2 separate regions of the Homo sapiens genome follow, and region 1 is linked to region 2. Evidence: fine-mapped expression QTL. A gene starts in region 2. The other region holds a variant in brackets. All regions are shown on one strand. Distances are between the middles of the regions. Region 1 has its middle 22 kb from the start of SBDS. Region 2 holds the start of LINC02604 (long intergenic non-protein coding RNA 2604).

Region 1 (16,358 bases), 70 kb after region 2:
TGTAGTCCCAGCTACTCTGGAGGCTGAGGCAGGAGAATGGCTTGAACCCGGGAGGCGGAGCTTGCAATGAGCCGAGATCTCGCCACTGCACTCCAGCCTGGGTGACAGAGCAAGACTCCATCTCAAAAAAAAACAAACAAAAAAAACCAAAAATTGACTGGGTGGTGGTGGTGCATGCCTGTAGTCCCAGCTACTCAGGAGGCTGAGGCAGGAGAATCACTTGAGCCTGGGAGGTGAAGGTTGCAGTGAGCCGAGTGTGCCACTGCACTCCAGCCTGGTGACAGAGCAAGACTCTGTCTCAAAAAAAAAAAAAAAATTCAAAAGGTATCAACCCAGCCTGGGCAACACAGCAAGACCCTATCTCCACAAAAAATAAAAAAATTAGCCGGGTGTGGTGGCATACACCTGTAGTCCCAGCTACTTGGAGGCTGAGGTGGGAGGATTGCTTGAGTCCAGCAGTTTGAGGCTACAGTGAGCTATCTTTTTGGCACCAGGGACTGGTTTTGTGGAAGACAGTTTTTCCATGGATGGGGAGTAGTAGGGGATGGTTTTGGGATGAAACTGTTCCACCTCAGATCATCAGGCATTAGATTCTCATAAGGAACATGCAACCCAGATCCCTCCAATGTGCAGTACACAATAGGTGCTCTTATGAGAACCTAATGCTGCCACTGATCTGACAGGGGGTGGAGCTCAGGTGGGAATGCGAGCAATGGGGAGTGGCTATAAATACAGATGCAGCTTCACTTGCTTGCCCGCTGCTCACCTCCTGCTGTGCAGCCTGGGCACTGGAGACCACTGAGCTATGATCACCCCACTGCACCCAAGGCTGGGTGACAGAGCAAGACCCTGTCCCAAAAAAGAAAAAAAGACTGGGCACGGTGGCTCACACCTGTAATCCCAACACTTTGGGAGGCCAAGGTAGGTGGATCATCTGAGGTCGGGAGTTTGAGACCAGCCTCGCCAATGTGGCGAAAACCTGTCTCTACCAAAAATACAAAAAATAGCCAGGCGTGGTGCTGCATGCCTGTAATCCCAGCTACTCGGCAGGCTGAGGCAGGAGAATTGCTTTGGTCCAGGAGGCAGAGGTCACTCTTGTCTCCCAGGCTGGAGTGCAGTGGCACGATCTCGGCTCACTGCAAACTCTGCCTCCCCGGTTCAAGCAATTCTTCCGGCTTCAGCCTCCCGAGTAGCTGGGGTTACAGCACCTGCCACCACGCCTGGCTATAATTTTTTTGTATTTTTAGTAGAGACGGGGTTTCGCCATGTTGCCCAGGCTGGTCTTGAACTCCTGACCTCAGGTGATCCACTCACCTCGGCCTCCCAAACTGCTGGGATTACAGGCATGAGCCACCGTGCCCAGCCCCAAACAAAGTACACTTTTGCTTCAATTTAGTTTCATTGCTGGAAAATACAATGTATGTTAAGACTGTGCAAAAAATCCTTTCTGCAAAATAGAGTTCAGTTCAGGGCTCAAATGAGGATGAACATTTTTCATCTGTGTGAATGTTGGATACGACACTGGAGCCACATGGAACTTGGGACAGATCTTTGCAGAGTCTATGTCTGTATCCCAGGAGTGGGTTGCTATTATTAATATTATCTTTTAGATAGAGCCTCACTCTGTTGCCCAGGCTGGAGTACACTACAGTGGCATGATCATAGCTCACTGCAGCCTCAACCTCCCCAGCTAAAGTGATCCTCCCGCCCCAGCCTCCCAAGTAGCTGGGACCACAGGCAGGCACCACCATGCCCAGCTAGGTTGTTTTGTTTTGTTTTGGCTTGCTATGTTGCCTAGGCTGGTCTTGAACTTTTGGGCTCAAACAATCCACCTCCCTCAGCCTCCCAAACTGTTGGGATTACAGGTGTGAGACACTGCGCCTGGCCACAGGTTGCTATTACATTATTGTGATGATCAGAAAACCCCAAATTTCCAAAGTGACCTCAAGGGGGTGGCATCACCCACCACGGTTCTAGCATCCTGCCCAAGACAGAGCGGTTCCTGATTGCCTCAGCCTTTGACTTTCGACCCACCCTGGGCACCTAGGGCAGCTGTCACCCCCTACCCCCGCAGGCCAGGTCCACCAGCCTGAGGTCTGTTCCTCTTCCTTGGGGTTTACCTGACTGCCCTGCACCTCAAGATGATGATGGCGGCTGAGGAGGGACTGCCCTCTTCCTAGCCCTCCTGGAGGGAGAGGGAATGGATCCAGAGGATGGACCAGCCCTAAAGATGTCCATTTGACACCCAAGGAAGCCCAGTGTTGGGCGTGGTGGTTCCCGCCTATAATCCTAGCACTTTGGGAGGCCAAGGCAGGAGGATCACTTGAGGCCAGCAGTTCGAGACCAGCCTGGCCAACATGGGAAAACGCCGTATCTACAAAAATTACAACAATTAACCGGCCGTGGTGGCGCATGCCTGTAATCCCAGCTACTTGGGAGGCTGAGGCAGGAGAATTGCTTGAATCCAGTAGGCAGAGGTTGCAGTGAGCTGAGATCACGCCACTGCACTCCAGCCTGGGCCACAGAGCAAGACTCCGCCTCTAAAAAAAAAAAAAAGGAAGCCCAGGTTCCACCCAGGCAGCCATTGATGCTGGGAGACAAATGGTATACTTCTTTTATTTCCATCTTGTTTTCTGCATGTATCCTTGCCCCCCCCACCACACACACACACACACACACACACACACACACACACACACACACACACACAAGCAAATCACAGAATGCTGTGGGAACTAGAAGAGGGAGTAACTGTACCCACTGTCATGTGCATTTTTTTCGCACCCAGATACATAATGATAGCCCATACTCTGGGGTGTGGGAAATGCCACCCACAAAGTTGGTAGCACAACACGGCCATGCCATGGATTGGACGAGATGTGCGGCCCGTGTTGGATGATTCACAAATGGCGTGAATTGGAAAGAATGAGCCAAAAATACACAGTGGGAAACCAAAAGGTTGGCCAGAAGTGTGTGATATCTAGAGGATGTGGGATATGCAACTTTTAGTGACAGCGACATTAGAGATCTTGGCCTGGGTTAGATTCCAGAAAAATGAGAGATGTCAAAAGTCTAAGCAAAGCAAGCCAGGCAAAGAAAATCCTGGAGGTGGGTCTGGCCACAATTCGAGTGTCAGCAACAAATGGATGAAGTGTGTGTGTTTGTGTGTGTGCATGCGTGCACGCGTGTGTGTTTCTTAGATGGGACCTTCCAGAGTATATCTTCGGCCAAATTTTTTTTTTTTTTTAGAGACAGGGACTTGCTCTGTCACCCAGGCTGGAGTGTAGTGATGTAAGCATAGCTTACTGCAGCCTCAAACTCCTGGCCTCAAGTGATCCTCTCGCCTTGGCCTCCCAAAACACAGGGATTATAGCTGTGAGCCACTCCACCCAGCCCACTTTCATGTGTCCTATTTATTTTATTTTATAATTTTTTTTTTGGAGATGGGGTCTTGCTATGTTGGCCAGGTTGGTCTTGAACTCCTGGTTCCAAGCAATCTTCCTGCCTTGGCCTCCCAAACTGCTGGGATTATAAGTGTGAGCCACTATGCCCAGACAATCTTCGTGTATCTTTTCTTTTTTTTTTTTTTGAGATGGAACCTTGCTCTGTCACCCAGGCTGGAGGGCAGTGGCGTGATCTCAGCTCACTGCAATCATTGCCTCCCGGGTTCAAGTGATTCTCCTGCCTCAGCCTCCTGAATAGCTGGGATTACAGGCACCCACAACCACGCCCAGCTACTTTTTGTATTTTTAGTAGAGACGAGGTTTCACCATGTTGTCCAGGCTGGTCTCGAATTCCTGACCTCAGGTGATCTGCCTGCCTCGGCCTCCCAAAGTGCTGGGGTTACAGGCGTGAGCCACCACACCTGGCCTCTTCTTTTTTTGAGACAAGGTCTTAGTCACTCAGGCTGGAGTGCAGTGGCTCAATCATAGCTCACTGCAGCCTTGATCTGCTGAGCGATCCTCCTGCCTCAGCCTCCCAAGTAACTGGGACTACAGGTGAGTGTCACCACACCTGGCTTTTCTTTTTTCTTTTTTTTTTTTTTTTTTTTTAGAAACAGGGTCTTGTGATGTCATCCATGCTGGTCTTGAAGTCCTGGGCTCAAGTGATCCTCTTGCCTCAGCATCCCAAAGTGCTGGGATTATAGGCGTGAGCCACTGTGCCCAGCCCATCTTTGTGTATTTTAAGCCCCAATTCTAAAAACCTGAAACATGCATACCTTATTTAGAGCAAACAATGGTGCTTTTCTCCTTGGTAGCCAGTTCTGATTCCTGGTAGCCAGCAATTACTAATGTCCAGGTCATGGACAGGGAGTGGCTTACTGGGAGACAGGAGAACCTAGTGGTTAGCAGGTTGGGTTTAGGATTAGGAGCTGGCTTGCCTGGGTTCAAAATCTGGCACTGATGCTTCTTTGGGTAATTTTGGGCAAATTTCTTTTTTTAAAAAAATAGAGTTGGTTGGGGGGGGGGGTGTCTCACTATGTTACCCAGGCTGGTCTCGAACTCGTGGTTTCAAGTGATCCTCCCACCTCCACCTCTCTAAATGGTGGAATTACAGGCGTGAGCCACTGCCCCCAGCCACAAATTTCTTTTCTTCTTCTTTTTTTTTGAGATGGAGTCTTGCTCTTGTTGCCCAGGTTGGAGTGCAATGGCATGGTCTCAGCTCACTACAATTTCCGCCTCCCAGGTTCAAGCATTCTCCTGCCTCAGCCTCCCGAGAGGCTAGGATTACACGTGCCTGCCACCATGCCTGGCTAATTTTTGTATTTTTAGTAGAGACGGGGTTTCACCATGTTGGCCATACTGGTCTCCTGACCTCACGTGATCCACCTGCCTCGGCCTCCCAAAGTGCTGGGACTACAGGAGTGAGCCACCATGCCCGGCCGCAAATTTCATTTGTACTCTGTATGCCTCCATTTCATCATCTGTAAAAATAGGGATAATAATAGCACTTACTACCCAGCGTTCTTGTGAAGATTAAATGAATTAAGATATGTGAAGCCTGTAGATGGTCATTGTTTTCTGTAATTGGAGGAAGGGTGGTTAGAGTCAGCCTGCCTACCTCACACTCAGTCCATCCAGGGAATTACGTGTGTGCGTGGGACAGTTTTTGCAGGTCAAAACTGCAAAACAGTTTGGCAGAGGCAGGAACAGAGCTGTGTTTACAAGCCCCGCCCCTGTCCTATTCAGGCCCTTCCTACCTCAGTCCCTGTGATACTGGAGGAGGGCAGGGAAGTGCTGGGTAGAGAAAGGCGGGTCCCTGCTAGGGCTGCATCCCCATGGACCTAGGTGAGGACAGGCACATCTGCCTTCATGCCCAAATGTTGCATTTTCCACTTCTTATGACCTTCCTGCTGAAGGATGCAGAGGGCTTGGAGCTCACCCAGCTGCAGTTTCGAGCCCCCATTGGTAATGCCAGTACCTTGGAGTTAGGGCAGGGGAGTGAGGTCGTGGCTGCCCAGCCCTGCCAGAGGTTGCAGGGAGCAGTCAGATAGTTATGTATTGAGTTCTGGTCCTGCAAAGCCAGCCCAAAGCTGCAGGAACCTGGCTGGAGCTGGATGTGGAGGGTGTTTGGGACTGGCCAGCCCTGTGGCAGTCTTCGGCTGGCACAATGGCATGGGTACAAACATGGCATCTGTATCAGCCCATTCTTGCATTGCTATAAAGAGCTACCTGAGACTGGGTAAGTTATAAAGAAAAGAAGCTAAATTGGTTCACGGTTCCACAGGCTGTACAGGAAGCATGGCTAGGGAGGCCTCAGGAAACTTACAATCATGGCAGAAGGCGAAGAGGCACGTCTGCATGGCTGGAGCAGGAGGAAGAGAGTGAAGGGGGAGGTGCCACATACTTTTTTTGGTTTTGTTTTGAGATGGAGTCTCACTCTATTGCCCAGGTTGCAGTGCAATGGCAAGATCTTGGCTCACTGCAACCTCCACCTCCCGGGTTCAAGTGATTCTCCTGCCTCAGCCTCCCAAGTAGCTGGGATTATAGGCATGCGCCACCACACCCAGCTAATTTTTGTATTTTTAGTAGAGATGGGATTTCACCATGTTGGTCAGGCTTGTCTTGAACTCCTGACCTCAGGTGATCCAGCCGCTTTGGTCTCCCAAAGTGCTGGGATTACAAGTGTGAGCCACCACGTCCAGCTGGTGCCACATACTTTTAAACAACCAGATCTTGCGAGAACTCACTATCATAGGAACAGCAAGAGGGAAATCCGCCCCCATGATCCAATCACCTCCCACCAGGCCCCTCCTCCAACACTGGGGACCACAATTCAACATCAGATTTGGGCAGAGACACAAATCCAAACCATATCAGCATCTCAACACAAAAATACCCCTAAAACCTCTGGGCACAGGTGGCAGTGAGCTGAGATCGTGCCACTGCACTCCAGCCTGGGTGACAGAACGATACTCTGTCTCCAAAAAAAAAAAAAATTAAAATTAAAAGGAAGAATAATCTTAGGAAAGAAGTTTTCACATTATATTCAGATTTTTTCTTTTCTTTCTTTTTCTTTTTCTTTCTTTTTTTTTTTTTTTTTGAGATGGAGTCTCACTCTGTCACCCAGGCTGGAGTGCAGTGGCACAATCTCGGCTCACTGCAAGCTCCGCCTCCCGGGTTCACACCATTCTCCTGCCTCAGCCTCCTGAGTAGCTGGGACTACAGGCGCCCACCACCACGCCCAGCTAATTTTTTGTATTTTTAGTAGAGATGGGGTTTCACCATGTTAGCCAGGATGGTCTCCATGTCCTGACCTCGTGATCTGCCCGCCTCGGCCTCCCAAAGTGCTGGGATTACAGGCGTGAGCCACTGCGCCCGGCCTGCAGATTTTTTCTTTACTTCATTTATTTATTTACTTATTTTAAGAGACAGGGTCTCACTCTATTACCCAGGCTGGTCTTGAACTCCTGGGCTCAACAGATCTTCCTGCCTTGGCCTCCCAGTG[G/T]GTGAGCCGGTGGACCTGGCCATCTTCAAAAATTGAAATCACTGAAAGGCACCTGGTCATCATTTTCTTGTCAAACTTTTCAATCAGAGCAAGTAATCTGTGGTTGCCCAGCCTTCAGATTAGTAGACTCGAGTGGAGACCAGGCCATATTCCAGGGAGCCACCTCAGGCCTTTTGACCTGGAACGCACAGGTGATTACCACAGCCCAGGGTGATAAAGAACTCATTCCTATGACTTGAAAGGGTGATTTTAATGTGTGCTGGACATTGCCCTAAGTATTTACGCACATTATCTCACTTAGCTCTTTACCAGTGAATGAGGTACCTATTAGCAGCCTCCTTCCACAAATACATTGAAGTTGAGTGAGATTAGATAAATTGCTCACCTGTCTTAGCAAAGGCTTTCTGGTATGAGTTACAGAAACGAACTTCAGCTGAATCTTTTGCAAAGAAAAAGAATATGGGACCCGGGGCGTGGCTCACGCCTATAATCCCAGCACTTTGGAAGGCAAAGGCAGGCGGGTCACCTGAGGTCAGGAGTTTGAGATCAACCAGGCCAACATGGTGAAATCCTGTCTCTACTAAAAATACAAAAATTAGCCAGGCGTGGTGATGGGCACCTGTAGTCCCAGCTACTCAGGAAGCTGAGGCAGGAGAATTGCTTGAACCCGGTAGGTGGAGGTTGCAGTGAGCTGAGATCACGCCATTGCACTCCAGCCTGGGCGACAGAGCGAGACTCCGTCTCAACATAAATTAATAACAAATAAGAAAAAGAATACAGGTGGGCAGCCAAAGTTACTTGTAGGCTCTCAGGATATCTCGCTGAATCCAGGGGCTGATTTGCTACGAGACAGAGGAAGGTGCTGAACCTGGCTCAGGAGACAGCTGGAAACTCAGGTAACAGACCCCAGAGTCCTCTTTTTCTCCACCTGCAGAATGGGTTCTTTCTCTTGGTATCTGTATCCTTGTAGAGAAGCATGGCTGCCCCACAACTCCTGGAATCACAGAAGACAGGTTCAGCCATCTGCAAAAATCCATGATTATTGTTCTGTCCATATTCTAAACTCCTTAGAGAGACAATCGTTATCTTCTTAGCAAAGGTTATTCCTTTTATGTGGTTGCATAAGAGTCTGTCTGTCTCGCTCTCTCTTTCTTCCCCCTTGTGTTGAGAGACAGAGATTCTAGAGAAGAAATGGAAGAATCGTGGGCTGGGCAGATATCCTAAAATGTGCCTGCTGCATACCAACTTTACACAACTAGTAAGGTTTAAATTCCTGTCTTTCCAACTCTGTTTCAAATAGACTCTGGACTGGTCAGCCGCAGTGGCTCACACCTGCAATCCCAGCACTTTGGGAGGCTGAGGCGGGCAGATCACTTGAGGCCAGGAGTTCGAGACCAGCCTGTGCAACATGGCGAAACGCGGTCTCTACTAAACACACAAAAATTAGCCGGGCGTGGTGGCGGGCGCCTGTAATCCCAGCTACTCAGGAGGCTAAGGCGGGAGAATCACTTGAACCTGGGAGGCAGAGGTTGCAGTGAGCAGAGGTCCCATCACTACATTCCAGCCTGGGCGACAGAGCAAGACTACTCCAGCCTGGGCAATAGGGCAAGACTCCGTCTCAAAAAAAAAAAAAAAAAAAAAAAAACACTAAACAGGCCAAGCGAGGTGGCTCCCACCTGTAATCCCAGCACTTTGGGAGGCTGAAGGGGGCAGGTCACCTGAGGTCAGGAGTTTGAGACCAGCCTGACTAAAATGGAGAAACCCCGTCTCTACTGAAAATAGAAAATTAGCCAGGCATTGTGGTGCATGCCTGTAATCCCAGCTACTCGGGAGGCTGAGGCAGGAGGATCATTTGAACCCGGGAGGCGGAGGTTGTGGTGAGCCGAGATCGCGCCATTGCACTCTAGCCTGGGCAACAAGAGTGAAACTCTGTCTCAAAAACAAAGCAACAAACAAATTAAGGAACAAACACCTCTGGCTGGGCTATTCCCACTTCCATAGTACTTTAAAACAAATCTGATACTTTTTTTTTCTTCCCGAGAGGGAATCTCGCTCTGTCGCCCAGGCTGGAGGGCAGTGGGGCAATCTCGGCTCACTGCAAGCTCTGCCTCCCAGGTTCACGCCATGCTCCTGCCTCAGCCTCCCGAGTAGCTGGGACTACAGGTGCCCACGACCACGCCCGGCTAATTTTTTGTATTTTTGGTAGAGACGTGGTTTCACCGTGTTAGCCAGGATGGTCTTGATCTCCTGACCTTGTGATCCACCCACCTCGGCCTCCCAAAGTGCTGGGATTACAGGCGTGAGCCACCGCGCCTGGCCTGATACTTAAGTCTCTGTCAGCCTCTCAAGAGGGCCATCCCATCTATAGCCATATCCCTCTGAAACATCCCATCTCACCAAAAGGACCACCAGGGTTTGAGAAAATCTGCGGCAGATCTTGCTGGGCTGAAGTCTTACGTACGTTTGATCTCTCGGCATTTCTGTTGTGTTCCTCCCTACGCCCCCAGCTCTGAACTGTCTAAATGCCTGTTCTTACCTTAAAATATTGATCTACAAACTAGAATAGTGGTTCTGAAACTTTAGCGTGCATCAGAGTCACTTGGAGAGTTTACTGACTTATAGATTTACAGTTTATTGAGATTAAAAATTGCTGGGCCCCGTCTCTGATTGATTAGGTTTGGAATGAGGTTTAAGATTTTTCTTTTTTGAGACGGAGTCCCGCTCTGTCACCCAGGCTGGAGTGCAATGGTGCGATCTCGGCTCACTGCAACCCCCGCCTCCCAGGTTCAACCAATTCTCCTGCCTCAGCCTCATGAGTGGCTGTGATTGCTGGCGTGAGCCACCACACCCGGCTAATTTTTGTATTTATAGTAGAGATGGGGTTTCGCCATTTTGGCCAGGCTGGTCTCGAATTCCTGACCTCAGGTTATCTGCCTGCCTCGGCCTCCCAAAGTGCTGGGAATCCAGGCGTGAGCCAGCGCGCCCGGCCAAGATTTTGCATTTGTAACAAGTTCTTGTTACCTACGCAGTGGATGAGTTCAGTCGCTTGGTGGATTACAGACAGCTCCCAAAACAGTGCCACTTGGAGAGTGGGGGCTGGGTTGGCTTTTATAGGCCTAGGCTAATGAGTCATGATATGATTGGATCTTGTAGTCAGGTGATGCCAGGAGGTGTGATCTGACTGGATGCTGCAATGGGGTGATGCCAGGGCTCAATCTGATTGGATCCTGGATCCTGGTGGGCTGTGTCTGTTTCTTAATTTAGTCCCCATGCCCCGATCCTAGCACTTAGGATCCCCCTGTGGGTGCAGGCTTGGTTCGTCTGGACGTGCTCAGGTTACATAATCTGAGGGTTCCAGGCAACTGATAAACTAACGACTTTGTTACATAAAAGTTGAAGCAGGCCGGGCGCGGTGGCTCATGCCTGTAATCCCAGCACTTTGGGAGGCCGAGACGGGCGGATCACGAGGTCAGGAGATCGAGACCATCCTGGCTAACACGGTGAAACCCCATCTCTACTAAAAATACAAAAAATTAGCCGGCCTGGTGGCACACACTTGTAGACCCAGCTACTCAGAAGGCTGAGGCAGGAGAATGGCGTGAACCCAGGAGGCGGAGCTTGCAGTGAGCCGAGATTGAGCCACTGCACTCCAGCCTGGGCAACAGAGCGAGACTCTGTCTCAAAAAAAAAAAAAAAAAAAAGTTGAACCAGATTGGTCTAGTGCAGCTACAGGCGCGGTGGCTCACGCCTGTAATCCCAGGACTTTGGGAGGCTGAGGCAGGCGATCCTAATGGTGTATCCCCACTTTGAGAACTACTTAACTAGAAGAAGCCAAAGTCACGAATACATCCCCTAATGCAAAGCCTCACAACTAGCAGGCGATCAATACATGCTTATTTTATAAACTTCCTAATGCAGAGAGTCCAATTTTTCTCTATTTCTTCACGTCGATTTAATTACTTAGATTGGAGTCTTTGTCAGCCGGGCGCAGTGGCTCACTCCTGTAATCCCAGCACATTGGGAGGCTGAGGCGGGGGGATCACCTGAGGTCAGGAGTTCGAGACCAGCCTGACCAACATGGAGAAACCCCATCTCTATTAAAAATACAAAATTTGCCGGGCGTGGTGGTATATGCCTGTAATCCCAGCTACTTGGGAGGCCGAGGCAGGAGAATCGCTTGAACCTGGGAGGCGGAGGTTGCGGTAAGCTGAGATGGCGCCATTGCACTCCAGCCTGGGCAACAAGAGCGAAACACCGTCTCAAAAAAAAAAAAAAAAAGATTGGAGTCTTTGTCCAAAACATGCTGTTTCAGAATTAAGCGGTGGGGGGGGGGGGGGGGAATAATTGTAATAAAAAGTTCTGTTTGCCTTTATTATTTATGCATTTATTTATTTTCAGGACGGAGTCTCTCTCTGTCACCCATGCTGGAGTGCAGTGGCCTGATCCTGGCTCACTGCAACCTTCGCCTCCAGGGTTCAAACGATTCTTCTGCCTCAGCCTCCTGAGTAGCTGGGATTACATGATGTCTGGAATCTATGAATAACATTGGTTTCTAAGTTATGAGTTGAGTTTTAACTACTGGGTTTAGACCAGGCAGGCCCAGGCGTGGTTTCGGGCATGGCGCTGGGCTGCCTGTCTTTGGTTTTACTTCCTTGTTGTTTTTTCTTAAAACAGGTACTGAGTATAAAACAATATAAAACAATATGAGAGGATCTCTCTCTTCCCTCATCACTGTGTTAGCCAGGCTGGTCTCGAACTCCTGACCTCAGGTGATCCATCCACCCTTGGCCTCCCAAAGTGCTGGAATTACAGGCGTGAGCCACTGCACCTGGCCCTATGTTTGCCTTTATAAATAAGATTTATTTTAGCTCTTCTTTCTTTCTAATGCAAAGTACTTTAACAATTTTAAAAAATTAAGTGTTTCAATCGGGTGGGTATGGTGGCTCATGCCTGTAATCCCAGCACTTCTGGAGGCTGAGTCAGGAGGATCGCTCGAGCCCAGGGGGTTGAGACTAACCTGGGAAACATTGTGAGACCCCATCTTTATTTTTAAAAATGATTTCAATACAGAAAATGCCTGTTATTGCCATAAAGAGCTATCTTGATAGCTGGACCATTGCACTTCAGGAGTAGCTGTTGTATGGCAGCCGTGGAAATTGTGCAGTGCTCAGCCTGTGCAACCACATGTGGCAGCCTGGTGGAGAGTTTCTCTGCGATAAATAGTAATGAAATATTTCTCTCCCTCCCCACTTTTCAAAGCTTCTTTTTTTTTTTTTTTTTCTGAGACAGTTTCACTCTTGTGGCCCAGGCTGGAGTGCAATGGCGTGATCTCAGCTCACCGCAACCTCCGTCTCACGGGTTCAAGCAATTCTCCTGCCTCAGCCTCCCGAGTAGCTGGAATTACAGGCATGCGCCACCATGCCCAGCTAATTTTGTATTTTTGGTAGAGACAGGGTTTCTCCATGTTGGTCAGGCTGGTCTCGAACTCCTGACCTCAAGTGATCCGCCTGCCTTGGCCTCCCAACTTGCTGGGATTACAGGCCTGAGCCACCGCCTGGCCTCAAAGCTTCTTTTGTTAAAGGTTTGGGCTATTTTTTAGTAACTTTTAGTCTCATTGCATTTTTTCCCAGCTTCCTTTCCTTTTTTTTTTTTTTTAATTGAGACCGAGTCTTGCTTTGTTACCGAGGTTGGAGTGCAGTGATAAAATCTTGGCTCACGCCAACCTCCACCTCTCAGGTTCAAGCGATTCTCCTGCCTCAGCCTCCCAAGTAGCTGGGATTACAGGTGCCCACCACCACGCCCGGCTAATTTTTGTATTTTTAGTAGAGATGGCATTTCACCATGTTGGCAAGGCTGGTCTCGAACTCCTCACCTCAAGTGATATGCCTGCCTCAGCCTCCCAAGTGCTGGGATTATAGGCATGAGCCACCGCACCCAGCGCTTTCCTTTTCTCTTGATGTGACTTGCTAAACCACTTGACAAAGAAGCTGAGGTTATTAGGCTTTTCTTTTCACAAATAAGGTGAATGAATCATAAGCCCATGTCTGCTGCTTTATTTACTGAATTAGTGTTCTAAAAATAAAACAGCACTCTTTAAGTCCAACATTTATACCTAAATTCTGGGCCCTGAAATGTAATTGTGCACCTGGGCCCGTATTTAACTTCAAATTCTCCATCTGTGTAAGATGCATAATACCAGGTCTACTATGCAGACAGTTACGGTAAGTCAGACGATGTCTGAAAAACACTTGAGACACACAGTTGCCATGTTCTGTGTACTGACGGAAAGTATGAAATTAGCAAAACATGCAGGGAATATTCAGCTGTATTCATTACTGTGTTTGGGCAAAATACGGTAAAGAAATTGCTCAGCATAGTTTCTCTGAAGATGTTTGGGTATACTTAGTATGCTTTGCAAACCTTGGAATTGGATTTAATTTTTACTTAGAGAATTAAGCATCTAATTATTGCCACAAAAAATAGTAGATTAAGGCCATGCACAGTGGCTCACGCCTGTAATCCTAGCACTTTGGGAGGCTGAGGCAGGTGGATCACCTGGGTTCAAGGGTTCGAGACCAGCGTGGCCACTGTGATGAAACCCCGTCTCTAATAAAAAAAAAAAATTTAGCTGGGCATGGTAGGGGGCGCCTGTAATCCCAGCTACTTGGGAAGCTGAGGCAGGAGAATCACTTGAACCCAGGAGGCGGAGATTGCAGTGAGGAGAGATTGCCCCACTGCACTCCAGCCTGGGCAACAGAGCGAGACTCTGTCTCAAACAAACAAACAAAATAGTAGATTAAGTTTGGGCAACATAGGAAGACCCTGTCCCTACAAAAAGTTAAAATAATTAGCTAGGCGTGGTGGCACAAGCCTGTAGTTCCAGCAACTCTGGAGGCTGAGGCAGGAGGATTGATTGAACCTAAGAGTTCTAGGCTGCAGAGAGCTATGATTGCACCACTGCACTCTGTTACAGATGTATACATGTACTGAGTCATGATGGAAAATGGATTGATTTAGAAATGTTTGGGTATGATGGCTTGCTCATTGCCCTTCTATGGTTCACTATAGCTTAGGCTATTTGGAGAAAAGCAAAACATTTGAAAGCTGAAACATTCAAAACATTCAAAGATTCAAAGCTGAAATCTGTGATCCATGCCATGAAACTCAAGGAAAAAAAAATGCGGCAGTTATTTTAGTGGCACCAAGTCCTGGGGCTCCTGGATCCCAGCCTAGGAGGAGAGGGACGTGAAGAAAAGTAAGGGCCAGCACATTTTGACTGTTCTGGGGAAAAGGAACTGCAGCAAGAAGTAACTGCTCTGCTCAAAACATTCCTATTCTCTCTCTCTCTCGTCTCACTCTGTCACTCAGGCTGGAGTGCAGTGGTGCGATCTCGGCTCACTGCAACCTGTGCCTCCTGGGTTCATGTGATTCTCCTGCCTCAGTCTCCCTAGTAGTTGGGATTACAGGTACCTACCACCACTCCCAGCTAATTTTTTGTATTTTTAGTAGAGAAGGGATTTCACCATTTTGGCCAGGCTGGCCTCGAACTCCTGACCTTGGGTGATCCGCCTGCCTCAGCCTTCCAAAATGCTGGGATTATAGGCATGAGCCAACGCGCCTGGCCAGCCTCTCTTTATTGGGAGCTTTCCATCCACTCTCCATCTCTTCTGCCTTTTCTTTTTAAATCTCCTCATCACTTCCTTGCAAACTCTCCATGCCTCCTAGTGCCTGAGGTAGGTATAAGACAGCTTGAAACCAGTAATCTACAATTCTTTCCTGGGCTTTCCGTTCTCACAACAGAGTCTGTGTCACCTGCTAAGGTACTGAAACTGACTCAGTTCTTTCATAGAGCAGATGTTTATGGTTTCTTTTGAATAAACATAGAAATTGACACTTCTAGCCTGGTGTGGTGGAGTGTGCTGGTATTCCCAGCTACTTGGGAGGCTGAGGCGGGAGGATCCTTTGAGCCCAGGAGTTCTGGGCTGTAGTGCGCTATGCCAATCAGGTGTCTGCACTAAGTTTAGCATCAACTTCCTGGGAGTGGGGGACCACCAGGTTGCTTAAGGAGGGGTTAACCAGTTCAGGTCGGAGACTGAGCAGGTCAAAACTCCTGTGCTGATGAGTAGTGGCATCACGCCTGTGAATAGCCACTGCACTTCAGCCTGGGCAACATAGTGAGACCCTGTCTCAAAACAAAACAAAAGCAAAAGCAAAAAGAGAAACAAATTGACCTTTCCAGTCTTGAAATTTGAGAAAGTGACATTTGCCTTATCTGAGTTCCTTTCTCAGGAAATCAACCATCAAGCCTCCCAGATGGTATCAAGGAACTGAAACTTACCAGATCACTGCATTTGGACAATGAGATGCAGAACCCCTCATCTGTCATAATGGCCTAACAGACCACCTGCTGCCTGTTGATCAACTCCTCTTCCTTACCCCTCCCTAATTCCTGTTTTACTGCATGTAGTTACATTTCTTCCTTCCTATATAAACCTCTAATTTTAGTTGGTCAGGGAGACAAATTTGAAACTGATCTCCCATCTCCTTGGCTGGAGCACCCAATTAAAGCCTTCTTCCCTGGCACTACTGATTGGCTTTCTGTGCAGCAAGCGGCAGGACCTACACCAAACCCCTGGCATTTTGGCAACAGCACTGGTCATGCTAGGGAAAAAGTTCAAGATCTCAACTTCCAAGACCCAGGGAAGCCTCTCACAATTTCTAAAGGGCAGGGCAGAAGAGATCTTTGAAAGTGAATCTGAATGAGAATAAAAGTGCAGTTTCACTTTAAATTTTCCAAAAAGCTTATTAAATTGGTATTTTCATATGCTTTTGAAAACTTTATTTATTTATTTATTTAGAGACAGAGTCTCACTCTGTCACCTAGGTTGGAGTGCAGTGGCGTGCTCTCGTCTCACTGCAACCTCTGCCTTTCAGGCTCAAGCGATTCTCCTGCCTCAGCCTCCTGAGTAGCTGGGATTACAGGTGGCACCACCACCATGCCCAGCTAATTTTTGTATTTTTTTTTTTTTTTGAGACAGATTTCGCTAGTTTCGCCCTTGTTGCCCAGGCTGGAGTGCGATGGTGCAAACTTGGCTCACTGCAACCTCCACCTCCCTGGTTCAAGTGATTCTCCTGCCTCAGCCTCCCAAGTACGTGGGATTACAGGTGCCCACCACCACATCCAGCTGATTTTTTGTGTTTTAGTGGATATGGGGTTTCACCATGTTGGCGAGGCTGGTCTTGAACTCCTGTCCTCAAGTGATCCACCAGCCTTGGCATCCCAGAAGGATGGGATTATAGGCATGAGCCACTGCGCCTGGCCTAATTTTTATATTTTCAGTAGAGATGAGGTTTCACCACATTGGCCAGGCTGGTCTCGAACTCCTGACCTCAGGTGATCCGCCTACCTC
Region 2 (16,358 bases):
TTGACTTCTATTCTGACTGAAATGGGAACTGCAGGAGGGTTCTGAGTAGAGAGGCGACATGATCTGTCTCCTGATTTAAAAGCACCCCCTGGCTGCTGAGTTGAGAAAGACTGTGGGAAGATTTGGGTAGAAGCATGGGGGCCAAGCTGTGTCAGCATCCAGGTGGGAGATGGTAGTGGTCCTGACCAGGGTCATGGCTGTGGTGAGAGATGGTCAGAACCTGGATAGATGTTGAAGTCAGCCAATAGGATTTCCTGACAGACTGGGTGTGGGCTGTGAGATAAGGCAGGGGTCAAGGTTGAGCTTGATTCTAATGGAATTATTAAGTAATTTTAAAAAACACTGCTGCCTTTCCCAATCCTACCAAGTAAAGGATGCTAGATGAAAGAAATCTCAAGTCGGGCCAGGTGCAGTGGCTCACACCTGTAGTTCTAACAGTTTGAGAGGCAGAGATGGGAGTATGTTTTAAGGCCCAGGAGTTGGAGAGCAGCCTGGGCAACATAGCAAGACATCCTCTCTACAAAAACAAAATAGAGAAATTTAATACAGTAAACTAAATACAGCTGAGCATGGTGCTGTGTACCTATGGCCCCAGTTACTCAGGAGGCCGAGGTGGGCAGATCTCTTGAGGCTAGGAGTTTGAGTCCAGCTTGGGCAACATAGCAAGACTCCTCTCTTTACAAAAATTAAAAAAAAGAATAGCCTGACATGGTGGCACTTGCTTGTATTCCCAGTTAGGGGTAGGCTGAGGCAGGATGATCTCTTGAGTCCAGTTGGACGAGGCTGCAGTGAACTATGATTATATCACTGCACTCCAACCTGGGTGACAGAGCGGGACCCTGTCTCAAAATACAAATACAAATAAAATGAAATTTCAAGTCAGACCAGTCCCTTCTAGGCTATGGAGGCCTTGCAGCCACATAGCTGCATGATTGAGTTTGTGTGGCTGTGGATGAGGAGACCCCTGCCTAATTATTGTTGGCTATATAATCAGTTTATTTTTAATTTTAGTAATCAGATATATTTCCTCATACTTGATGGTCTCAGATATGTGTGGGTTTTGGAATTCTCCTTGGAACAGGTTGTAACATCTTATTGGTTTCATCATTCCGTAATTTTTTTTATCTGATCACTTTTTAATAAGATCAGAATTGACATTAGACTACCTAATCAGTTTTGATTAATGAGAAAATGAAATTATGTTGTTTGCACTTTATCCAAGATTGGTTTCATATTGGCTAAATCTAATCAATACTTGAACAAATGCAAAATTAGAGCTTCTTTATCATGAAACACTTTGTCATTCTTGAAGAAGATGCCATTTCTTTTTTGTAGCCTTTAATAAACAGCTGCTATCATTGCAGACTTGCTATTCAGGCACTTAGGAATTTTTCACTAGAAGGCATGTAAAGAAAGACCATGGGCATTTGTAATGAATTTAGCATTCATTGTTTGACTGCATGACTGTCCCCAGAGCTGTAACTTTACTAACAAATTTTTCAGAATCCACTTAGCTGGCAGCTGAGCCTAACCAGCCACTAACCATCATTATTCAGTGCTCTTTTATTCTTATCTATTTCTCCTCAAACTTGGCTACACTCAAAAAGTGATAAAAACTTGCATTTCTTTTCTTTCCTTTTTAGAGAGAAGATCTTGATCTGTGGCCCAGGCTGCAGTACAGTGACATGATCATGGTTCACTACAGCTTCAAACTCCTGGCCTCAAGCCATCCTCCCACGTCAGTCTCCCAAGTAGCTGAAACTACGGACATGTGCCGCCATGCCCAGCTAATTTTTTATTTATTTATTTACTTATTTATTTTTTCATAGAGATGGGATCTTGTTAGGTTGCTCAGACTGGTCTCAAACTCCTGACCTCAAGTGATCCTCCTGCCTCAGCCTTCCAAAGTGCTGGGATTACAGGCAGGCATGACCACCTGTGCCTAGCCCCTTATTATTATGTTTTTAAATAATAGCTTTATTAAAATATGATTCACACACCATTCAATTTATTGAAATCTGCAGTTCAGAATATTTTAGAATATTCACAGAGCTGTGCATCGATCACCGCAGTCACTTTTAGAACCATTCATTACTCTATAGAGAAATCTGCACCCTTAGCCATTACATCCACTCCCCCAACCTGCCTTTGCCCCCAGCCTCAGGCAACCATGGATTCATTTTCTGTCACTACCTAATCTGGACAAATAGAATTGTACAATAGGTGATCTTTTGTGGCATTTTTCCCTCTTAGCACAATGTTTTCAAAGTTCCTTTATGTCATAGGGTATATCAGTATTTCATTTTTTCTATGGCTGAATAATATTCCATGGTAGAGACACACTGCATTTTGTTGATCCATTTATCAGTTGGTGGACATTTGGGTTGTTTCCACGTATTGGCTATTATGAATAATGCTGCTATGAAGATTACAGTACAAGTTTTTGTGTGGACATATATTTTTATTTCTCTGGGATATATGCCTAGGAGTGAAATTGTTACATTATATTTTACATTTAACCTTTTGGGAAACTGCCAGACTGTTTTCTAAAGTGGCTACACCAGTTGGGTGCAATGGCTCACACCTGTAATCCCTGCTACTCAGGAGGCTCATTTGAGAGGATGGGTTGAGCACACAAGTTCAAGACCAGCCTGGGCAAGACAGTGAGACCCTGTCTTGATTTTTCTTTTAAAAATCCAATTAAAATGACAAGAAAAGAAATACCCAAAGTGGTTACACCATTTTATATTTCCACCAGTGATGTATGTGGGTTCCAGTTCCTCCACATCTTCACTGACATTATTTTTTTTTTCTAGACAGGGGCTTGCTCTGTCTCTCAGGCTGCAGTACAGTGACGCCATCACAGTTCACTGCAGCCTTGACCTCCCAGGCACAAATGATCTTCTCATCTCAGCCTCCTGAGTAGCTGGGAATTATAGGTACACGCCATCATGCCTGGCTAATTTTTATATTTTTTTGTAGTGATGGGGTTTTACCATGTTGCCCAGGCTGGTCTCTTACTCCTGGCCTCAAGTGATCTGCCCACCTCACCCTCCCAAAGTTCTGGAATTACAGGCTGAGCCATCATGCCTGGCCTTCACCAACATTTGTTATTGTCCATTTTTTTTCGTTTATACCTTAAAGCAGTATAAGAACAAGTGTTTTCAATTATGGTAAACAAAAAATATAATCCCGGGGCATTTGGATGCTGAGACAGGAAGATCTCTTGATGCCAGGAGGTTTTTGTTTTGTTTTGTTTTGAAACAGAATCTCACTCTCGCCCAGAGTGGAGTGCAGTGGTGTGATCTCAGCTGCCTGCAGCCTTCACCTCCCAGGTTCAAGCGATTCTCCTGCCTCAGCCTCTTGAGTAGCTGGGATTACAGGTACATGCCACTACTGCCCGACTAATTTTTGTATTTTTAGTAGAGACGGAGTTTTGCCATGTTGGTCAGGCTGGTCTCAAACTCCTGATTTCAGGTGATCCCCCTACCTCAGCCGCCCAAAGTGCTGGGATTACAGGCATGAGCCACTGTGTCTGGCCTGATGCCAGGAGTTTTAGACCAACCTAGCAAGACCTCATCTCAACAGAATATTTAAAAATTAGCCAGATGTGTTGTTGCTTGCCTATAGTCTCTTTTACTTTTTGAGACATGGTCTGGCTCTGTCAGCCAGGCTGGGGTGCAGTGGTATCATCATGGCTCACTGCAGACTGAAACTCCTGGGATCAAGTAATCAGTCCTCCCACCTTATCCTACCAAGTAGTGGGGACCACAAGTGCATGCCACCCGGGTCTTGCTATGTTGCCCAGGCTGGTTTTGAGCTCCTGGCCTCAAGCGATCCTCTCACTTTGGCCTCCCGAAGTGCAAGGATTACAGGTATGAGTCACCATGCCTGGCCCCTACCCTGCCTATTGAGAACCATAAGAAAGAACCAAATTCTCCTTAGCTCAACTCGAGCCATTTCCCAATTGGTTCTTCCACAAGGAGCTGGTTATTGAGCTGTCCAGGCCTCCCAAGCAGCACAGAAATGAGGTGAGGGAGTTTTCCTGCTGCTCCACTCTGTGAGGAGCTGGAGGATGATGTTCACTCATTTGCAGAGAGAGATGTCTTGTAGGCACCTTAGGATGGAGGGGACCCTGATTCCAATGTCCTTTTGTTTTTTTCTTTAGAAGCAGGACCTTGCTCTGTCACCCAGGATGGAGTTCAGTAGTCCAATCATGGCTCATTGTAACCTCAGATTTCCAGGCTCAAGCAATCCTCCCACTTCATCCTTCCCAGTAGCTGGGACTACAGGTTGGTGCCATGACACTCGGTGAATTTTGACTTTTTTTTTTTTTTTTGTAGAGATGGGCCTTGCTATGTTGCCAAGGCTGGCCTTGAACTCCTGCACTCAAGGGATTTTCCTGTGTTGGCCTCCCAAAGTACTGGTAATGCAGGCATGAGCCATTATGCCCAATGTCTCTGGTTCTTAACCTTCTGCCTCCCTCTTCCACATTTAAAGAACCCTTGTAATTACATGGGCTCACCCAGATACTGCAGGATAATCTTGTTTTAAGGTCAGCTGATTAGCAACATTAATTCCATCTGTACTCTTAATTCCCCCTTCCTATGTAATTATGCGGTGTAACATAGGACATGAGCAGTTGGGGGGTCATTACTTTGGCCACCACTGTGATACTTTGGCCACCACCATGACTATTTTGTGCCAGGTACTGAGGTAAGCACTGGTGAATTAAACATGAATAACACACACTCCCTAATCTCCATTCATTTATGGGAGGAGCACCTCGCTTCCCATGCTCCTGAGAATCTAGGGAGTCAAGGAAGACTTCCTGGAGGAGGTGGTGCTAAAGCGGACAAGTGACAGAGGAGCTGAAGCTAGCCAGGAAGAGAGTAGATAAGGGGAAGCGTATTCTAAGCAGAGGGCATCACCCACTTCGCAGGCTCGCAGAGAGAGAGAGTGGGCATTCAAGGGACAGATGAGGCTCAGTTGGACTCCACAGCAGGTAAAATGGAGAGGGGCAAGCAGTGAGGCTGCCTTGCAAGACAGGGCAGAGCAGGGCCTGTTAAGGAGTTTGGACTTAATCCCAAAGGCAAGGAGAAGTGATGTAAACAGGGGAGTAATGTGATGAGATTCACGTATGAGAGACATGGCTCACGCTGCTGTGTGGAGAAGGCACCAGGGGGAGCAGATGGCTCAGTGGGTGTGCTGGAGACCTAAAGCAGGGAACACACTGAGTTTAGGGAGAGTTTTTTAAAATAGCAGAAGTTTGAGTAATTTAAATGCTGGTGGGAAGGAGCTAAAAGCAGGGGACAGGTTAAACATACAGGGAAGTGGGAGGAAGAACTGACAAGTGAGGTTCCAGAGAGGGCAGGAGAAGAGGAGATTCTTATAGGGGGATTAGCATTCCTCTCCCCTCCTCTCCCCTCCCCTCTCCTCCCTTCCCCTCCCCTTCCCTAAGACAGGGTCTCACTCTGCTGCTCAGGCGAGAGTGTACTGGCATGATCTTGGTTCACTACAGCCTAGACTTCCCAGGTTCAAGGGATCTTCCGACCCCAGACTCCCAAGTAGCTGGAACTACAGTTGTGCACCACCACCATACCTGGCTAATTTTTTTTTTTTTTTGGTAGACACAGTGTCTCACTAAGTTGCCCAGCCTGGTCTCCAACTTTTGGCCTCAAGCAGTCCTTCTACCTAGGCTTCCCAAATTGCTGGGATTACAGGCATGAGCCACCATGCCTGGCCTCTGCTAGTTTTGTATTCTCTAGAATTGTCTGTAGTTAGTGCTAGTGTGTCACTCATTATGCTGATCCTCTGTTATAATTAATATTTTTTATATTAAAGTTACTTTTTTTTTTTTTGGTATTGGGTCTCAGTCTGTCACCAAGGCTGGAGTGCAGAGGCATGATCTCTGCTCACAGCAACCTCCACTTCGAAGGCTCAAGCAATTCTCCATCCTCAGCCTCCCAAGTAACTGGGATTACAGGTATGTGCCAGCATGCCTGGCTAATTTTTGTGCTTTTTTTGTGCTTTTTGTAGAGACAGGGTTTTGCCGTGTTTCCCAGGCTGGTCTCAACTCCTGAGCTCAAAGTAATCCACCCGCCTTGGCCTCCCAAAGCGCTGGGATTACAGGTTTGAGCCACCGTGCGCATTCCAGTTTAAACTTTTGAGCGGTTTATATGTTTTGATTGGACTCCTAGAAATACAGAATTGATGCTAGGAAGAGTACCAGGAGATAGACACATATACATGGGATTTCAGCCTTGGTTTGGTTATCCAAGGAGCAGTGCTGAGTTTCTTGCCAATGGGACATGGGATGCTGGTGATTTCCAGGAAGTGTCCTCACAATGAGTGAAGCTACCACTTACTGTTTATTGTGATGAAATGCTAGCCAAGGCATATGCCATGCGAGTTAACGGATGCTATGCTTCACCACTGTGGCAATAAAGATGACTCTGAAGAATGGCATGGGACGGAACCTTTCAAATGCACCTGAGCAGGGGTCTCCACCACAGGGCCACAGAGCTGGTGGTGAGCAGCAAAGTGAGGGGAAAATTCGTTTGTATTTATAGCCCCTCCCCATCGCTCGCATAACCACCTGAGCGTCATGTCCTGACAGGTCCAGCTACTGCCTTCCAGTGACCTCTTTAGGCTCATCTCATGCTTCACCGTGGCCTCGCCAAACCAAGCTGCTGCGTTTCAGCAGCCTCTGCAGCAGAGGCCGAGCTCTGCGTCCTGATCATCCTGATGGCCTCTTTAGGCCCAGCTCATTTCTCACAACGGCCACCTTAGGCCCAGCTTTTCCCTTTTGGTGGCCTCTCCAGGCCGAGAAATTCCTCAAGTCGGCCTCCCCCACCGCAGTTGCTGCCTCCCGGCCTCTTCTCCAGTCCCAGTCCTCTCTCGCAGCTGTGTCTACAGGCCCAGCTCCTGCCTCCAAAGAGCCTCTTTTGACTCGGCTCCTACCCAGCTCCTGGCAGCCTTTGTAGGCCTGAAATCTCTTCCAGTCCAGCACTCCATACCCAGTCTCCCCTCACAGCGGCCTTCCCAGGCCCAGCTTTTGCCTCACAGCGGCCTTCCCCGGCCATTTTCTAGCCGGCCTCGCGGTAGCCTCAACAAGCCCAGCTCCCGCCTCACACTGGCCTCTCTAGGCCCAGCTCAGGCGTCACAGTGGCGTCTCCAGGCCCAGCTCCCGCCCACCCCAACAGCGTCTCGCGGCTCAAGGCGTTCTCAAGATGGCCCTTCCAGGCCAAGTTCCTGCCTCCCGCCGATGGCCCGTGTGGGCCCAAAGCGTCCTGAAGTCGGCCTCGCCAGGCCCAGCTCCTGCCTGTCGTAGGCGCCTAGAGGCATGGCCTCTGCCTCCTCACAGTGGACCCCCCCAGACCCAGCTCTTGCTTCAGCATGGCCACCTCAGGCCAAGCTCCTGCCTTGCCTGTTGGCAGCCTCCACAGGCCCAGCTCTTGCCTCTCGCCATCCTCTCCAGGTCCAGAACTGTTTCCAGCCGGCCTCTCCAGGCCCAGCTCTCCCTCCCGGCTGTGGCTGCCGGCCCAGCTCCTGCCTCGCAACAGGCACGTTCGGCCCAACTCCTGCCCAGCTCATGGCAGCATTTGTAGGCCCCAGGCTCCTCTAAGTCAGGCCTTCCAGGCCCTGCCTTCAGCTCCCTGGCGGCCTGGAGAGGCCCAGCTCCTGCCTGACAGCGGCCTCTCCGGGCCCAGCTCTTGTCTCGCGTCGGCCTCCCCGGGACACATTTCCCCCTGCCTCGCGGCAGCCCCGAAAGACCCAGCTCCTGCCTCCTGATGGCCTCTTTAGGCTCATCTCATGCCTCACTGCAGCCTCCCCCAGGCCAGGCTCCTGCCTTTCGGCGGCTTCCGCAGGTCCGGCTCCTGCGTCCTGACGGCCTCTTTAGGCCCGGCTCGTCCCTCACAATGGCCTCTTTCAAAGGCCCAGCTTTTCCTTCGTGGCGGCCTCTCCAGGCCCAAATTGGCAAGCCTCCCCTGTCCTGGTGGCTGTCTCCCGGCCTACTCTCCAGGCCCAGCACACTCTCGCGGCTGTACCTCCAGGCCCAGCCCCTGCCTGCAGACAGCCGCTTTTGACTCGGTTCGTGCCCAGCTCCTGGCGGCCTTTGTAGGCCCGAAACCTCCTCCAGCACAGCTCTTCAGGCCCACCTGTGGCCTCGCAGCGGCCTTCCCAGGCCCAGCTCTTGCCTCACGGCGGCCTTCCCCGGCTGTATTCCTGCCAGCCTCTCGGCGGCCTCAAAAAGCCCGGCGCCTGCCTCACACTGGGGTCTCTAGGCCCAGCTCACGCCTGACGGTGGTCTCTCAAGGCCCAGCTCCCGCCCACCCCGACCGGCCCAAGGCTTTCTCAAGTTGGCCCATCCAGGGCCCAATTCCTGCCCTCCGCTGATGGCCTGTGCAGACCCAAAGTATCCTGAAGTCGGCCTCGCCGGGCCTAGCTCCTGCCTGTCATAGGCCCCTAGAAGCACGGCCTCTGCCTTCTAAAAGTGGAACCCCCCAGTCCCAGCTGTTGCCTCAGCGTGGCCACATCAGCCGAAGCTCCTGCCCTGCCTGTTGGCAGCCTCCATGGGCCAAGCTCTTGCCTCTCACCATCCTCTCCAGGCCCAGTACTGTTTCCAGCCGGCCTCTCCAGGCCCAACTCTCCCTCTCAGCTGTGCCTGCCGGCCCAGCTCCTACCTCGCAAAAGCCACGTTCGGCCCAGCTCCTGCCCAGCTCCTGGCAGCCTTTGTAAACCCCAGGATCCTCTAAGTCAGGCCTTTCAGGCCCTGCCTTTGGCTCCCCGGTGGCATGGAGAGGCCCAGCTCCTGCCTGACAGCGGCCTCTCCAGGCCCAGCTCTTGCCTCACGTTGGCCTCCCTGGGCCACGTTTCCGCCTGCCTCGCGGCAGCCCCGACAATCCCGGCTCCTGCCTCCCGATGGCATCTTTAGGCTCATCTCGTGCCTCACCACGGCCTGCACCAGGCCACACTCCTGCCTTTCGGTGGCCTCCGCGGGCCTGACTCCTGCGTCCCAATGGCCTCTTTAGGCCCGGCTCGTGCCTCGCCGCGGCCTCCTGAGGCCCACCTTTGCCCTTCTGGCAGCCTCTCCAGGCCCAGGACTTCCTCAAGTCGGCCTCTGCCAGCCCAGTGGCCGCCTCCCGGCCTCCTCTCCGGGCCCAGCTCCTTGCTCGTGGCTGCGCCCGCGGGCCCAGCTCCTGCCTCTGAACATCCTCCTGTGACTCGGCTCCTGCCCAGCTCCCAGCGGCCTCCGTAGACCCGAAGCCTCCTCCGGTCCAGCTCTCCAGGCCTGCCTCCTGCCTCGTGGCGGCCTTCCCCGGCCATGCTCGTGCCGGCTTCCCGGCAGCCTCCACGAGCCCGGCTCCTGCCTCACGCGGGCCCCTCCAGGCCCAGCTCGTGCCTCGCGGCGGCCTCTCCAGGCCCGGCTCCCGCCCAGCCCGACGGCGTCTCCCAGCCCAAGGCTCCCTTCCTCAACGTCGGCCCCTCTGGGCCCAGCTCCTGCCTCCCGCTGATGGCCTGTGCGGGCCCACCCGAGGCGGCCCGAAGTCGGCCTCGCCAGGCCCAGCTCCTGCCTGGCGTAGGCCCCTGGGGGCACGGCCTCTGCCCCACAGTGGCCCCTCCGGGCCCAGCTCGTGCCTCGGCTTGGCCGCCTCAGGCCCAGCTCCTGCCTGTGGGCGGCCTCTCTCCAGACCCGGCTCTCGCCTCCCGGCATCCTCTCCAGGCCCAGAGCTGTTTCCAGTTGCTAGACCATTTTTGTGCCTGCCTCGTTGCAGCATCTCCAAGCCCAGCTTTTGCTTTTCTGCAGTTTCTTGAGGCCGAACTCCATTTTTCGAATGGCTTATTTAGGCCCAGCTCTTGCGTTTGCATTGTCCCTTCAGGCCCAGAACTTTCTCACGTCATCGTCACCAGGCCTAGCTTCTGCATCTGGTCAGCCTTTTAAGGCCCAGCTTTTGCCTCATAAACTCAGCTCCTGTTTAATGGCGGCCTCCCAGGTCCCACCTTCTGCCTTCCTGTGTCCACTCCAGGCCCAGCTACTGCCTTGGTGCTCTTTTTAAGTCAATAATTTTTTCCAGTCGACCTCTCCAGGCCCAACTTGTACCTCTGAGTGTCCTCTAGGATCTCAGCTTCTGCCTAACAATGACCTCTTTAGACTCAGCTCATTTTCACTGCTACATCTTCAAGCCATTCTCCTGCCTCTTGGCAACCTCTAGTGGCCCAGCTTCTGCCTCACAGCAGCCTCTCCATGCATGCCTAGCTCCTGCCTCTTTAGGGAACTTACAGGCCTAAAACTTTCTTAATTTGGGCTTCTCAGGCCCAGCTCCTGCCTTCTGTTGGCCTCTACAGGCCTGGCATCATCCTTTCAACAGCCTCTTTAGGCCCGGCCTCTCCAGGACCAAAACATCCTTAAGTCAACCTCACCAGGCCCGGCTCCTGTCTCCTTGCGGCCTCCAGAGGCCGAGCTTTTGCCTGCCAATGGCCTCTCTAGCCCCAGCTTTTGCCTGCCAATGGCCTCTCTAGCCCCAGCTTCTGCCTTTCATCGGTCTCTCCAGGCTTAGCTCCTTTCTCTTCACGGCCTCTGCAGGCCTAAAACTTCCTCAATTTGGCATCTCCAGGCCCAGCTCCTGCCTCCAGGCCGCCTCTGCAGGCCTATCTCAAGCCTTACAACAGCCTCTTTACCCCCAGCTCCTTTCTCCGACTTGTCTCTCCAGGCCTAGAACTTCCTCATGTTTACCTCACCAGGCCCACCTCCTGCCTTCCAGTAGCGTCTACAAGTTTGGCTCCTGCCTCCCATGGATCTCTCCAGGCCCCAAACTTTCTCAAGTCAACCTCACCAGGCCCGGCTTCTCCCTTTCATCAGCCTTCCAAAGGCCAGCTTTTGCTTCATGTCTGCCTTCCGAGTCCCAGCTCCTGTTTTATGGCAGCCTCCTGAGGCCCAGCTCCTGCCTCCTAGTGGCCTCTTTTGGCCCAACTCTTTCCTCACCAGGGCCTTCCAGACCACGTTCCTGCCTTTTAGCAGCCACTACAGGCCCAGCTTTGCGTCCTTTCAAGAGTCCTGCCTCACAGTGGCCTCCCAAGGGCAACTTTCTGCCTCATGTCAGCCTCTTGTGCCCTGGTCCTGCTTCCTGGTAGACTCTGCAGGCCCTGCTCCTGCCTTACGTTGCCCCTTTTATAAAGATCCAGTTCCTGCCTCCTGGCTGCCTCTATGAGCCCAAATCCTGCCTAACAACAACCTGTTTTTGCCCAGCTCCTGCTTCCTGGCAGCCTCCTTAGGCCAAAAATTTCCTTCAGTTGACCTCTCCAGGCCCAGCTCCTGCCTCTCAGCACCCTCTTTAGGCCCAGCTCCTGCCTTAATAAATTTGAATAAATTATTGTTATGTGATTATTATGTGAAACATTTTTTCTTCAAAAGGTAATGAAAATTGAGGTAAAGTATAAAAGTCTAGCATATAAATTCCTCTATTGTCACCCTTCGTATTAGTCACAGTTCTCTAAAGGAGCAGAACTGTTAGGATAGATGTATATATATAAGGGAGTTTCTTAAGGGGTATTAACTCACAGGATCACAAGGTTCCACAATAGGCTGTCTGCAAGCTGAGGAGCAAGGAAGCCATTCTGAGTCCCAAACCTGAAGAACTTGGAGTCCGATGTTCTAGGGCAGGAACCATCCAGCATGGGAGAAAGATGTAGGCTCGGAGGCTAAGCCAGTCTCACCTCTTTATGTTCCTCTGCCTCATTTTTATTTTTGCCACACTGGCAGCTGATTAGATTGTGCCCACCTAGTTTAAGGGCGGGTCTGCCTTTCCCAGCCCCCTGACTCAAATGTTAATCTCCTTTGGCAACACCCTCACATACACACCCAGGAACAATACTTTGCATCCTTCAGTCCAATAGAGTTGACAGTCAATATTAACCATCACAAGTTCACCCCTTGTCAACTTTAACCCATACACATCTTCTGAAATTATACATAATCTTCAAATAAAGATAATAATAAGGTCATAATTGTGCCTAAGATAATAATAAAAGTATTCTTCATACAACTGGAAATGCACCAATCCTGAACCCAAATGCCCTTATATAAAACTAACACTTAGATGCTTATATGAAGTCAATATAAGTTATTCACACAATAAAGGAAAAAGGAAATGAAATATTCTTAGTACAAGCTTATATATGCACAAACATGTTTTTAACAAAAGGAGGAAATACTCATGACAATTACAGTCCTCGTTTCTGTAGCTGGTCACATGGTCATAGCTGGTATTGATGACTGCCTTTTTCTATTACCCATTCTGTATTCTTTTTGCCTTCAGAAAGCATCTCAGCAGGTTTTTTCCTGGAGTGACCCAAGCCTTCATTCCTGAAGGGTCTGGGCCATTTGTAGTCCTGCCTGGGTTGGGCTGTTATAGTTTCCCATTGACCTTAATCACAGGGCATCTCCTGTATTCCATGCATATTCTTCCTTACCTCCATTGTGGAGTAGTAGACTGATTTCATCTTGATAGTCTGGGTCAATCATCCCAGAAGGTTGTAACTCCCTTCTTAGCCTGTTGATTTAAAAGTGGCAGGACCCCAAAGTGTCCAGGTGGCAATCGTAACTTCCAGTTTAATGGAATCGTTGTGTCTCCTGGTGGCAGCTTTCTTCCCTCTGGATCTAAGACCTCTAGACCAGCAGAATGTAATGTTGTGGGAACAGGTAGCCAAAATTTTCTAGTGGATCACTAGGGGTGATGGTGAGTGATGCCACTTCCACTTCCACCCCTTGATTCCTGGACCTGTGAATCCTGGCTATGGGATAAACAATGCCATATATTGGATGCTGATTCAGAGCAGACATGGCCTTCTGGAGAAATTTGCCCCAGCCCCGCAGAGTATTATCACCTAGTTGGCATTGTAATTGTGACTTCAAAAGGCCATTCCACCATTCTATCAATCCAGCTGCTTCGGGATGGTGGGGAACATGGTGGGATCAGTGAATTCCAAGAGCATGAGCCCACTGTCACACTAGCTGTAAAGTGAGTGCCTTGGTCAGAGGCAATGCTGTGTGGAATACCATGACGGTGGATAAGGCATTCCGTGAATCCACAGATGGTAGTCTTAGCAGAAGCATTGCGTGTAGGATAGGCAAACTCATATCTGGAGTGTCCATTCCAGGGAGGAGAAACCTCTGCCCTTTCCATGATGGAAGAAGTCCAATATAATCAATCTGCCACCATGTAGCTGTGTGATCACCCAAGGAATGATGCCATATCAAGGGCTCAGTGTTGGGCACTGCTGCTGGAAAATGGGGCACTCAGCAGTGGCTGTAGCCAGGTCTGCCTTGGTGAGTGAAAGTCCATGTTGCTGAGAAAGTCTATCCCTGCCACCATGGCCACTTTGTTTATGAGCCCATTGGGCGATGGCAGTGGTGACTGGGGAAAAGGCTGAGTGGTGTCTACAGAATGAGGCACCCTGTCCACTTGATTATTAAAATCCTCCTCCGCTGAGGTCACCCTTTGGTGAGCACTCACATGAGATACAAATATCTTGACTGTTTCTGACCACTCAGAGAGGTCCATCCACATACTTCCCCAAATTTCTTTGTCACCAGTTTTCCAATCATGCTTCTTCCAAGTCCCTGGCCATAGAGCCAAACCATTGGCTACAGCCCATGAGTCAGTATATAATCGCACACCTGGCCATTTCCTTCCATGCAAAGTGCACAACCAGGTGCACTGCTTGAAGTTCTGTCCACTGGAAAGATTTTTCTTCACTGCTGTCCATAAGGGATGTCCCAGAAAGGGGCTGTAGTGCTGCAGCTGTCCATTTTTGGGTGGTGCCTGCATATCGTGCAGAACCACCTGTGAACCAGCCCCTAGTCTTCTCTTCCTCTGTCAACTGATCATAGGGAACTCCCCATGAGGCCATCATTTCAGGCTGGGGAAGAGAAGATAGGGTGGCAGGAGTGGAGACCACGAGCATTTGAGCCACTTCCTCATGTAACTTACTTGTGCCTTCAGGACCAGCTGGAGCCCGATCACATATATACCACCTCCATCTGATGATGGAATGCTGCTGTGCACGACCCACTTTATGGCTAGGTGGGTCAGAAAACACCAGTTCATGACAGGTAGTTCAGGTCTCATGGTGACTTGATGACCCATAGTCAAATGTTCAGTTTCCACCAAAGCCCAGTAATAAGTGAAGAGCTGTCTCTCAAAAGGAGAGTAGTTATATGCAGAAGATGGCAGGGCCTTGCTCCAAAATCCTAGAGGCCTATGGGGGTCTGCCAGAGGCTCCAAACACCATCCCTATCTGCCACTGACACCTCAAGCACCACTGGGTCCGCTGGGTCATATGGCCCAAGTGGCAGAGCAGCTTGCACAGTGGACTGGACCTGTTGCAGAGCCTTCTCCTGTTCTGGACCCCACTTCTGGTACCAAAATGTGTATTAGGGTCCAGGGTCCACTAAAGGGACAGAACTAATAGAATATATATATATATATATGAATTTATTAAGGGGTATTAACTCAATCACAAGGTCCCATCACAGGCCATCTGCAAGCTGAGGAGCAAGGAAGCCAGTTTGAGTTCCAAAGCTGAAGAACTTGGAGTCCGATGTTTGAAGGCAGGAACCATCCAGCACAGGAGAAAGATGTAGGCTCAGAGGCTAAGCCAGTCTAATCTCTTCACGTTCTTCTGCCTACTTTTTATTGTGGCCTCGCTGGCAGCTGATTAGATGGTGCCCACCTGGATTGAGGGTAGGTCTGCGTCTCCCAGTCCACTGACTCAAATGTTAATCTCCTTTGGCAACACCCTCACAGACACACCCAAGAACAATACTTTGCATCCTTCAATCCAATCAAGTTGACACTCAATATTAACCATCACACCCCTCCTCCTTTCCCCAATTCCCACCACAAAAGCATAATAATTTGTCCAAAGAGTCCTACACTTAGTCCTTCTCTGAACAAAATGCCGGGTGGTTGTAGGCTGAGTGTCACTCCTTTATCACGTCTCCTCAGTTTTTTTTTTTATTTTTGAGACAGGGTTTCCCTCTTGCCCAGGCTGGAGTGCAGTGACACAATCCTAGCTCACTCTAGCCTTCAATCCTGGGTTCCAAATGATCCTCCCCCTTCCGCCTCCTGAGTAGCTGGGACTACAGCTACTTAACCACTATGAACCACTTCTGGCTCATTTTTAAATTTTTTATAGATACGGGGTCTCACTAGATTGCTCAGGCTGATGTGGAACTCCTGGCCTCAAGCGATCTGCCCACCACAACCTGGTTCAAGCGATTCTGCCTCTGCCTCCCAAGTAGCTGGGATTACAAGTGCGCACAACCATGCCCAGCTAACTTTTGTATTTTTAGTAGAGATGGGGTTTCACCATGTTAGCCAGGATGGTCTCGATCTCCTGACCTCGGCCTCCCAAAGTGCTGGGATTACAGACATGACAGTGTTTTAATTGCCCATTTTAATTTTCAATTAACCTGAGAGTTTGAGAGTGATAAAGAATGTGATAAGTCCATCGAATATGCTGGTTCTTTGCTCATTGTTGCTCGGCATGGGCTGTGGATTGAGTGTCTTGATCTGGGAAAACGTAACTGAGAGTGCCAAACCAATATGGCTATCAAAGCCAAACAGACCAGGTGTGATCACTCATGCCTGTAATCCCAGCACTTTGGAAAGCTGAGGCAGGAGGATCACTTGAGCCCAGGAATTTGAGACCAGCCTGGGCAACATAGTGAGACCCTATTTCTACAAAAAAATTAAAAAATTAGCTAGGCTTGGTGGCATGCACTGGTAGTGCCAGCTACTCAAGAGGCTGAAGTGGGAGGATCGCCTGAGCCTCTGAAGTTGAGGCTGCAGTAAGCTGTGATTGCACCTCTGTACTCCTGCCTGGGCAACAGGTGATACCCTGCCTGTAAAAACTAAAAATAATTAAAAAATAAAAACAAAGCCAAACTCAGAGTATGCATGCAGACCTGTCGGTGTCCATTTAATTTCTCTTGGAAAAATGGGTAAAGGGCCAGTATCATCTACTTGCCAGCTGTGGGCTGGACTTCCTCCCCAGGAAATACTCCCAGACCTAACTGCAAACATAACCTTTTCTGTTGGTAAACAGAGCAATGTTTAGTAAACATTTGAACTTCTGCAGGGAAAGTACTACATGGTGCTCAGCCCCTCACTTCATGGCACGAGTGCCCCGGGCCCACTCATTTTATGGACCCACATTGCTACTTTATGAGATTGAAGTAGGGCAGGTGCAGTTGCTCAAGCCTGTAATCCCAGTACTTTGGGAAGCTGAAGCAGTAGAATTGCTTGAGGTCAGGAGTTTGAGACCAGCCTGGGCAACATAGGGAGACCCCA

What was found. PIP is the estimated chance that this variant, and not a neighbour inherited with it, causes the effect.
Region 1: its variant is fine-mapped to the expression of LINC02604 in whole blood (TOPMed, PIP 0.92).

What each region holds. Positions count from the first base shown.
Region 1 is chr7:66,965,273-66,981,630 of GRCh38, forward strand. It overlaps the pseudogene RN7SL43P. Among named protein-coding and RNA genes, the nearest start is that of SBDS, 22 kb to the right of the region's middle. The variant G/T (reference allele first, on the strand shown) is at 6,949.
Region 2 is chr7:66,894,912-66,911,269 of GRCh38, forward strand. LINC02604 (long intergenic non-protein coding RNA 2604) reads left to right here and starts at 9,209. Exons shown (of 1, transcript NR_136637.1): 1 at 9,209-11,386.